Regions from separate parts of the Homo sapiens genome. Here region 1 is linked to region 2. A link means that fine-mapping ties the variant in region 2 to the expression of a gene that starts in the linked region. Tissue or cell type: amygdala. Region 2 holds a variant in brackets; the other region holds the start of a gene. All regions are shown on one strand. Distances are from middle to middle.

The links. PIP is the estimated chance that this variant, and not a neighbour inherited with it, causes the effect.
Region 1: GALNT6 starts here. The variant in region 2 is fine-mapped to the expression of GALNT6 in amygdala (GTEx, PIP 0.96).

Annotation. Positions count from the first base shown.
Region 1 is chr12:51,389,446-51,394,568 of GRCh38, reverse strand. GALNT6 (polypeptide N-acetylgalactosaminyltransferase 6) reads left to right here and starts at 3,163. Exons shown (of 12, transcript NM_007210.4): 1 at 3,163-3,282; 2 at 3,632-3,719. It also overlaps a transcript of SLC4A8 not described here. RefSeq lists enhancers at 683-772, 2,816-3,400, 3,401-3,986, 4,948-5,037 and a silencer at 2,591-3,130.
Region 2 is chr12:51,835,406-51,840,602 of GRCh38, reverse strand. All of the region lies in intron 1 of FIGNL2 (fidgetin like 2), which reads left to right. Among named protein-coding and RNA genes, the nearest start is that of FIGNL2-DT, 10 kb to the left of the region's middle. RefSeq lists an enhancer at 3,572-4,523. The variant T/C (reference allele first, on the strand shown) is at 2,994.

The DNA of each region.
Region 1 (5,123 bases), 450 kb after region 2:
GGGATTACAGGCATGAGCCACCACTCCCAGCCTAAAAAACCATTTTTCGAAAGTTGCCTGTACCAGCGGAGGCAGAAATTGCAGTCACTATTCTGTGGTGGCTCATCTGCAAACCTTCCTGGCTTGGTGGAGAGGAAGCCTGCACCGTCCTTCCTGTTAGGAGAGAACAGCTCAGTGCATGACACATTAGGGGTGGGTCACACATCCTGCGGACTCATGAACCTCCAAATTAGGCAGCTAATTATTCTGAGGATTCCAAGTCACATTTAAAATCAGCGTCAGCTGAAGTAAAATCAGATGAGTAATTTGCTTCCGGAATGCGAAACACACAACGCAGACTGCTGCTACTTCTTGGGAAGCTGGGCCCGGCCCTCTCAGGAGCACCAGGCTGGGGGTAATGGCCATGACCCTGTCCTGGGAAGGAATAGGGGCCATTCACCTCAGGTTAGGTTGGGTCCTGACTAAGGTGCAAGACTCACGTCAGGATCACACAACCCCTGAGGGTCAAAGGGCAGAGGTGGAGGAAGGACAGAGCAAAGACGGTAGGTCCGACCTGTACAGGGAGTGTTCAGCCCCAAGAAGAGAGACATGAGGGGCAGCATCCCACAATCTTCCACAGGAAGTGCCCTCATTCTGAGAAAGACAGCTGTCAAGTAAGGCACATGACAAGAATAGAAGCAGCTGGGGCAGTGAGGTGGAATCAGAGTCCAGAGGGTCTACAGATGGGCTAAGGGATGCTCAAGGAAGCTCTGTAGAAAGTCTCTCTAGGAGCTTAAAGCCCACGGCCTGGAATGTGAAAGGAAGGGAGTTGGTGGAAGGCTGCTTAGAGTTAGGGGAGTCGGGCATCATGCCAAGAGTGAGCAGATGAACCCCTTTCTACTCCTGGGAGAATGTCCATCCTTCACGTCACTCTGATCATGTGTAGCTGGGCAACTCTTCTTCTCCACACTCTGCTGGCCTTCTCTCCTGACTCCATCAAAGAACATCTCACCTTCTGAATAGATCAAACCTACCTTGGAGTCTCAGGTTAGAAAAAAAGATTACTTTCTTCATTCACCTGTTAACACCCGGCTGGCTTCCCTGCCTTTCCCAGTGCGTGTCAGAACTTCTTGCTAGGATCTACTCACTCATGCTCCTGCTCCCAGGTCTTAGGGTCTTAGAAATACAAATTCATGGCTGGACTCGGTGGCTCATGCCTCTAATCCCATCACTTTGCGAGGCCGAGGCAACAGGATGGCTTGAGCCCAGGAGTTTGAAACCAACCTGGGCAACATGGCGAAACTCCCTCTCTACAAAAAAAAGTTAGCTGGGCATGGTGGCATGCATCTGTGGAGGCTGAAGCAGGAGAACAGCTTGAGACCCGGAGGTCAAGGCTGCAGTGAGCCGTGATAGCTCCACTGCACTCCAGCCTGGGCAGTAGAGCAAGAAAAGAAAAGAAAGAGAGAAAGAAAGAGAAAAAGAAGGAAAGAAAGAGAAAGAAGGAAAGAGAGAGAGAGAAAGGAGAGACAGAGAGAGTAAGAAAGAAAGAAAAAAGAAAAAAGGAGGGAGGCGGGGCAGCAGAAAGAGGAAGAAAACAGAAAGAAAGAAAGACAAATTTATTTAAATATCAAAACAAAAGAGAAACTGAACTAGTGGTAGAAGTTTCTACCATAGAAAGTTTTCAAATTATTGGCTATTTGGAGTCATGCGCGCTCCTTCTCTGTTGCTAAGGCCCCAAAAGATTGCAGCACACGAGGCAGCGCCGGAGAGGACCACTGAGCAGCACGGGCCCTGGCGGGGTAATTCCGAACACCGGCTTAGGAGGCGGGTTTACCAGGATTCTCATTCCAGCCCTGCCACTAATTGTTCAGGGTTCTCAAGGTCGAGCATGCACAAAATCACCCGGAGGGCTTTTAAAACACAAGTCGCCGGGCCCAACCCGAGTTTCGGAATATTTAGGTCTGCGGTGGGGCCCATTTCTTTTCTTTTCTTTTCTTTTTTTCTTTTTTTTTTTTTTTGATACGGAATCTCGCTCTGTCGCCAGGCTGGAGTGCAGTGGCGTGATCTCGGCTCACTGCAACCTCCCCCTCCCGAGTTCAAGCGATTCTCCGGCCTCAGCCTCCCGAGTAGCTGGGATTACAGACGCCCGCCACTACGCCCAGCTAATTTCTTGTATTTTTAGTAGAGACGGGGTTTCACCATGTTGGCCAGGCTGGTCTCGAATTCCTAACCTTGTGATCCGCCCGCCTCGGCCTCCCAAAGTACTGGGATTACAGGCATGAACCACCGCGCCCGGCCAAAATTTCTAATAAGTTCTCAGGTGATTCTGACTGGCGCTGCTGGTGGGGGATCCCACTTTGAGAAACACCCTCTGCTGTGTGAGCAGCTGCCTCCCCGGTACATTCGGAATAATCATAGTAGGTTTAAAGTTTGCTGGGGCTGGGATTCACCTGATACCTGGCACTTGGAGCCCTTGACACAGTTCATGGCACACGGAATACGAGCTCTTGTTGGATGGAGCACAAATGAGAAGCAAACCTGGGGCAGGACCCCGGGGCCCATGGCCGCCCCGCCGCGTTTCCCCCTCCGGGGCAGGCCTCCGGGCTCCGAGCGCTCCAGGCTGGCGCGCAGCACATTCCGGTTCCATGCACCCGCCGCCCGCGGCTCTGCTAATGCCTGTCCTCTTTGGGGTGACTAGGACCCTCCAATCTTTTTCCGCGCTGAAAGCCTGGCCGCAAAGACCGCACCCCCGGGGCGGGCTGAGACGCAGAGAAGCCGGGGCGCCCCTCTGCCGGTCCGCCGGGAGTTCCCGGGCCCGCAGCAGGCTGAGGACACGGCGGGACCCGCTGCACCTGGCCAGGGAGGGGCGGGGCGGGCGCGTTAGTGCAGCTGGGGGAGGTCCCGCCCCGGTCCCACCCTCCCGGCCGTCCGGTGGGGAAACCCGGGAGCCACCCCGCGGCGCGGCTGCGGCTTTGCCTCGGCGCGACAGGTAAGCGGCAGAAGGAGCCCGCGACCCTCTCCCCGGGAGGGCCCCCCTGAGCTCCCCGACTGCTCGGACTTCCCTTCGGCGGATCTCGCTTCTGCCGAGTCCTCGCTCTCACCTCCTCCTCCGCCAGCCTTCGCCTCTTCCTCTTCCTCCTCACTACCCCCGACAGTAAAATGAAGGGGCTGGGCCAGGCTGGTCCCTCCTGCCTTCGCTCTCTGCTGGTCGCGGTGGCCTGTAGCTCCTCCCTCGGTAGGACCCCCCTCCACCTTGGCGCTTACGAGATGAATGAGGAGCCCAGACCTCTGGAACTTGGAGGGGTGAGAGGGGGACAAGCCAGAGCCAGGGCTCCACACCCTCTTCCCCTCACCCACCCATGCCCTGCATTCCTTCTGTGCCCCGTCTCCCCAGATCGGGCCACCCCATGTGCTCTGGTACGGCAACTCTTGCAGAGAGGTTTCCTCCTGCCCTGCCACGTTGCGCCTGAGCAGAAGGGGACAGCAAGGAGAAGCCTCGCTGGTGGAGGTCGGTCTGAGCCCTGCTTGGTTGAATTCCCTCCAGAGCCTGGGGGCTTTTGGGGGTGGGAAGGGATCTGCCTCCTGCTGTGGGGAAATGGAATCTGCTGGGTGTTCATGACTGTGACTGTCACCGACTTCCCTATTTCCTCAGTTGTTCAGATTCCCAGGCTGACAAAAAGGAGAAACAGCTTTTACTTGCATCCAGGGCCAATCATCGCAGACCCAGACGTCTGCAGAGGGTAGGATGGGGCTCTTCTGTGTATGGGGGTGGAGGGTGGTCAGTTTGCCCACAAAGCTTACAGCAGACCCCTTCTAGCAGCCGACAACCCATTGCAGCACTCTCAGAAAGGATGTTAACTCTGTGCTCTGAGCTCGCCCCCAGGCCCACACACACAATTTACAGGCACTGGGTGAGGTTCATAGTTCTGGACACACCAAAGAGCCTCGAGGACTTTTGCGCCTTCTACCAGAGATGTGTGTGCACCACACAGGCCCTATTCTCCGCTCCAGACAGATGAGCTGTCTCCCTTCCCATCAAAGGAAAGGTTAAGAAGGATGAGACAGGGAAATTCATGTGATGATGAAAACCAGGTCAGGTGAGGGGTTTGAAATATGCTTTGGTTCCGGCCACATGTGGTGGCTCATGCCTGTAATCCCAGCACTTTGGGAGGCTGAGGCTGGTGCATCACCTGAGATCAGGAGTTCGAGACCAGCCTGGCCAACATGGCAAAACCCCATCTCCACAAAAAATACAAAAAGTTAGCCGGGCATGGTGGCAGGCGCCTGTAATTCCAGCTACTTGGGAGGCTGAGGCAGGAGAATTGTTTGAACCTGGGAAGCAGAGGTTGCAGTGAGCTGAGATCGCACCATTGCATTCCAGCCTGGGCAATAAGAGCAAAACTCTGTCTCAAAAAAAAAAAAAAAAAAAAAAAGAAAGAAAGAAAGAAAGAAATATGCTTTGATTCCAATTGCCTAGCAGGAGCCAGTAGCATTGCAGGCATTTCCCTAGCTCCAGTTCCTTAATGGTGCCATGCACTTTAGGAACCCAGAGGTAATCAGAGAAAGTTGCTTCCAGGGGCACCAGGGCAGAGAACAGGACAAGACCCTCAAAAGAAAGAGGGAAGTGTGCAGGAGACTGGGCTGCTCAAGATGACCTCACCTCAGTAATGCTGCCCACAGTCCTACAGTGGGTGGAACAGCTGACTCCTACCTGTAGCAGCATGGAAGAACTCAGGGCAGAGAAGGGGAGGCCCTGATGTGTGTCAGGTGCCCTGTGAGGTCAGAAACATATTTGCCCAAGTTCAGCTGGAAGAAGTGGGGACAGGAAATATGAGCATGAACTTAGTCCATGCAACCATTGCCTCGAACAGACCTCAGGACCAGGAGGGGCAGCTAACCCTAGGGCTGAGGGCCTCTCAGTGCAGGGAGGCAGTGAGTATCATGAAGGCAGGCAGCTGACTCAGCCCTGTCACTAACTTCGATATATAATCTTAGCCAAAACACATAAACACTCCCTGGGTGGGGAGCAAATGAGAAGGTGTATATGAAGTGTTTTGGCAAAGCTCCAAGCACCAGTCAAATGCAAGACAATGTGATGTCATAGTTAAGAGAGTGGGCTTTGGAGATACATAGGCCTGAATGCA
Region 2 (5,197 bases):
CCACCACACCCAGCTAATTTTGTATTTTTAGTAGAGACAGGGTTTCGCCATGTTGGTCAGGGTGGTCTTGAACTCCCGACCTCAGGTGATCAGCCTGCCTCAGCCTCCCAAAGTGTTGGGATTACAGGCGTGAACCACCGTGCCTGGCCAATGTTATTAATTCCCTTTGTAGCCCCATGTATTTTTCTTTTATGCATTGAGGAAGTATTTTTGAGAACAGGTCATAGGTTTTCCAGACTGCGAAAGGGGCCTAAGGCTGAAAGTGGTGAAGAGCTCTGGCCTCATCCTCCATCTCTCGCCCATGCAGGGCCAAGTCCCAGGCAAAGAGGAGCCCCAGATGCAGACCCAAGAGGAGACAGGCACTGGAAGGACCTCACCAGCCCCAGATCACAGGGCCACCCCAAGTGGACAGAGGACAGTCCATGGCGGCCTCCACTGAGCACCTGCGCCCTCCCCGCAGTGCCCATCACTGAGTGCACAGGTGTGAGGCTGCGTTGTGTGCTAGAAACAGAGCCTCAGGGAGGGGAACTGACTTCAGACAGGGCAAAGCGCAGAGTCAACTGCAAATCCCTGTTCCTCAATGAAAAAGCAAGTCATCTTTTTAAAAAGTAATTGCTGACAAAAAGTCATGACTATCATTAAAAAGTCCAGGTCATCCTCGTTCCCAGTGGCCCTGCTCTTTCTACCACTGTGTGTCAGGGAATGTTTTCTGAGGGAGGGGACTTTGGGAAGGAGCAGGTCAGGGTAGAGAGAGAGCTGCAGAAAGGGCTAGAGAGCCACTTGTACCAGGGCTCACAGACAGGGGCTGGCTGAGCAGCGGAGGGAATGGGAACCCAGTTAACAAGTGATGTCACCTCTAAATTGGGCATTGGAGTGGAAGGGCAGAAGTGCCTGGAACATGCTTCGGGGCACCAAAGAGGGAGACAGGAACAGCCTCAGAGAGAATGGGCTGATGTGACTGGAGGAGCTGGAAAGGGCCCGAAGCTGGAAGGAAGGACAGACTCATCCACCTCTGGTGCCAGGCTGAAGGGTTAACATCGTCTCTGTGCTTGGTAGGAGGCTGAGTCTGTTTTAGACAGAAAGACCACCCTAGCAGCCACACAGAAGAAGGATTAGGAAGGCAGAGAACAGAGGCAGAATTCAGAGGTGGGGCCAGCTGTGGTGGGGAACATGAGAGCTGTGGGTTGTTTTAGAGAGAGTGTTAACCTGACTTCATGGCCAGCTAGATGAGTGGAGGCTGGAGAGACAGACACAGGGACTCCTAGGTTTCCAGCCTAGCTGAAGAGATGGAATCGGGAGAGAGGAGGTGGAGATGTTTTCCTTGGGCATGTTGAGTCTGAGGTCTCTGTGGACCCTCCCAGAGGGTCCTAAGATTCTCACCTAGATTCCTACCTCTCCTCTTAAGATTCCCGGGGACAGTGAAGAATGTGGCTCAAGACCAAGTTACGTCTGGGCACAGTGGGCTGTCAGGAGGGACTTGAAGCAGGAGTATGAGACTTGCCTGGCAGTTTCTAAGTGGCAGAGGGTGGGCTGGGGGGGTCATGGGAGGGCCCTGGTGCTCCTCCCTCTATTAGCAGAGGAGAGGCTGGTGACAGATGTCCCAGGACACAGGTCAGAGCAGCCAGGGGTCAGGCGAGGACATCCTGGGAAGCTGTGGTTTGGGACTGTATTTTCAGTGACGGTCAGCTGGTCAGGGCAGGACAGGGAACTCATTCCTGCAAGGCAGAGCTCTTCTGGGGCCCCGCAGGCAGCTCCAGGATTATGTTTTCTCTTTGGAGTCCTCTGTCAAATGAGTTGGGTCCTTCTGGGCCTGGAGAGCAGCCCCCCCACCTCTTTCCCAGGCCACTGCACCTAGCCAGTCTCTAGGAGCGAGTTGGAGCCTGCCCTGGGTCCTGCATGGGTGGCCCCTCTAGCTAGTCAGGAAAGTTCCACCTCTCCTTCACTGCCCTCAGGCCAGCCTGTGAGGGGGATGCTGCCTCTCCACCCCCCATTTCACAATGGAGGAAACAGATCAAGACATTGTCCCACATCTCAGAGGCTGACTCTGAGGCCAGTGCTCACTCCCTGCAATACCTGAGTCATGGGAGGGGGAAGGGCTGGCTAGAGTGGGCTCAGAGACCCCTGCAAGCCGTGGGTCAGTCTTTCAGGTTGCCCTTCAGACACCTGCCTTACCCAGGTTACTAATGGGTACAGGCTCTATTGGGGTGGGGTACCTGGAGCAGCCAGTGAAGTGGAGAAAGGGGAGAAGGGAAGGAGTATGTCTCACCGTAGAACAGGCTCACACCACAATCCTCCCAGCAGCCTGCTGAGGGGACTGAATGAGACAATGGAGATCCAGCTCCCAGCCCAGTGTGCAGTGGCCTCTGGGAAGCACACAGACAGGGCAGCCCTTACTCCTTTCTTCCCCCAGGGCCCAGGAGCTGACATCCATCTCTGACCTGCTCCAACATAGCTCACATGTAGTGAGAAGTGGGGTGTGGTGTGGTGGGCAATTCCCAGCCCCAAAGACTCGCTTTCCCCGGCCTCCATGAACACTTCTAGTGGCCCATGCAGCTCACCTCGAGCAGGTGGGAAGGAGAAGGAGAATCAGCCTTGCTAATCCTCCTGGAGGTGTGACTGGCTGACAGCCTGGAGCCTCCCAGAAGTTCCATTTGGTTTAAAAGAGAATCCTTCTTAACCAGAATGGTGTTCTCTTGGTGAAATTGCAGGCAGCCTAACCAAGGGGAGCAAACAACACCTAGGCAAGAGGGAGACACGTTGTGTTTTCTTTGGTGGCAGGGACTAGGGTAATAACAAGGCTATTTCTCTCTACCTGCTTTCTCCCAGAAGATGGGCTGGGGACAGAGCACCAGCCTGGAGCCCCTTGTGTTCCTGGATATTGCCTAGCTTTGGGGTGAGACAAGACAGTGGAAGGAAGGTGGCCTGAGCATCCCAGGGCAGCTTTTGGTGGAGGGTCCAGAGAAAACGTGGAGGGGCTGTTGGGAAGAAGGGGG[T/C]GGGGAGGAGAGGAGAGCTGGAAAAGTGATTAGCAGCTCTGATGAGGTTGCAGTCGGGCCTGGCGGCCCCAGGGCAACACAAGAGAAAAAAGGAGCTGTTATTCACAGAGGGTGGACAAAGATGGCTGCCTGACTGAGGCAGCCCCCCAGCCCATCCCAAGGCAGCCAGGTCACAGGGGGTACCGGCAGGCCCCACGCCCTTGGCATGGATACCCCTCATGGGGATTGGGAATGGGACTGAGGCTGTAGGGAAAACATTGGGAGCCTGCGTCCTATGTCCAGTTCCCAGCTCCCCCGGACCTTCTTTGAGAGCAGGAGAGGCCCAGGAGCCACCCCCAACCTCCTGGGGTAGTAGATGGGCTGTTTGATCAGTGAGTGTGTAAATTGGGATTTTATGGATCGCTTATTCACGGCTGGAGCTGGGGCCCCCAAATTCCTCTGTGCCCCAGAATGCTTAATCTAGTCTTGAGCTTCCCCCTGAGAGGCAGACGGGAGGAGAGCTCCCCACAGGCCCCCACCCCTCCTGCTGTGTCCCCTCCCAAGGCCCCAGGCTTTGTCAGTTGCAGGTTGAGCGGTTCAAATGTGCTAATACACTCCCTGGGGGCCACCGGACAGTGGGACTTACTCCTCAGTGCTGTGATTGGCCAGAGAGACCACAGGAGGGGGGTTTCTGGCAGCAGCTGGGAGTGTGTGTGTCTGCGCACCCACCCACCGGCATGTGCGCCTGTGTGAGGGGAGGAGGGGGCTGGGGGTGTCCACCCTGCTCAGACCACTGGGCAGAGACAAAGGACCTTCATCTAGCCTGGGACGAGGATTAAGCCCACCAGCCATGTCCCTACCTGGTCAAGCTGGTTAGGAAGTCCACTGCCCACCTCTACATCCTCCTATTACACTGTGACATGGTGGGGGCTTATTCAATGTGTGTTGAATGGATGGATGGATGAGTGACCACAAGAGTGACTGCATTTCTAACTGGGGTGTGTCTGCTGGGATAATCCGGCACCAACAGATTCCTCCATCTCCCCTTAGGATTCTGAAGTATCCGCCCCCCACCAACAGAGACTCACTTTAGCCCAGGCCTGACCAGACATCAAGGCTGGACATGAGAGACTGGCCAGGCCTCGGGGGACACAGCTGTGACCCCCGGACTGTGTTACCACTTGAGAGTGCTTTCACTGTGGTCACGTTTCTCCCTCTCTGCTGGCCCCCATCTGTCCTTGGGATTGGATGAGGATGAGGATGGTGGGCGGGGTGGGGGAGGGGTGTTGAGCAGCTGATGGGGGAGGGCAGCGCAGCCCAAAGGCCAGATGACAGAGTGCCCTGTCCTACCTTCCTCTCCTCCTCCTCCGCCTGTCCCTCCTCTCCTGAGGCAGGGCAGACAGGCGGGGCTGGGGCGGAGGGAGTTGACTCAGCTAGCCCATCCTCCCTCCCCTGGTTCTAGGGAAAGCTCCAGTCCAGGGTAGCTGTAAAACTGCCTGGGAATCCTAGGAAAAGAAGCCTGCAGGGCACGGTGGCTCACTCCTGTAATCCCAGCGCTTTGGGAGGCTGAGGTGGGTGGATCACCTGAGGTCAGGAGTTCGAGACCAGCATGGCCAACATGGTGAAACCCTGTCTATACTAAAAATACAACAATTAGCCAGGTATGGTGGTGCACGCCTGTAATCCCAGCTACTCAGGAGGCTGAGGCAGGAGAATCAATCACTTGAACCCAGGAGGTGGAGGTTGCAGTAAACGGAGATCACGCCACTGCACTTCAGCCTGGGTGATAAGAATGAAACTCTGTCTATAAAAAAAAAAAAAAAAAGAAGTCTAGATCCGCAGGAAGTCTACCTAAAGACCTTAAGAAGCGAGACTCCATAGAAGTTCAAGATAGAGCAGCTCCGTCCGATAGAACTTTCTATGGTGATGGAAAGGTTCTGTGTCTGTGATGTCTACTACAGTGGCCACTTCCACATACGGTTGTTGAACATATGGAATGTGGCTAGTACCACTGAGGAAGTAAAATTTTTATTTTATTAAATTTTAATGTCTGCAAATTTAAATAGTTACATGGGGCTAGTGCCTGTCATTGGACAGTACAGGATTAGAGGCTGTGTTCAGGGCTGAAGCAAAGTCCTTGAGTGCAAGTGCCAATTCTGCCCCTTTTGGGCTGGTGGCCTTGGGCAGGACTCTTCCCGCCACACTATGTTCCTTCCCCAGGTTGC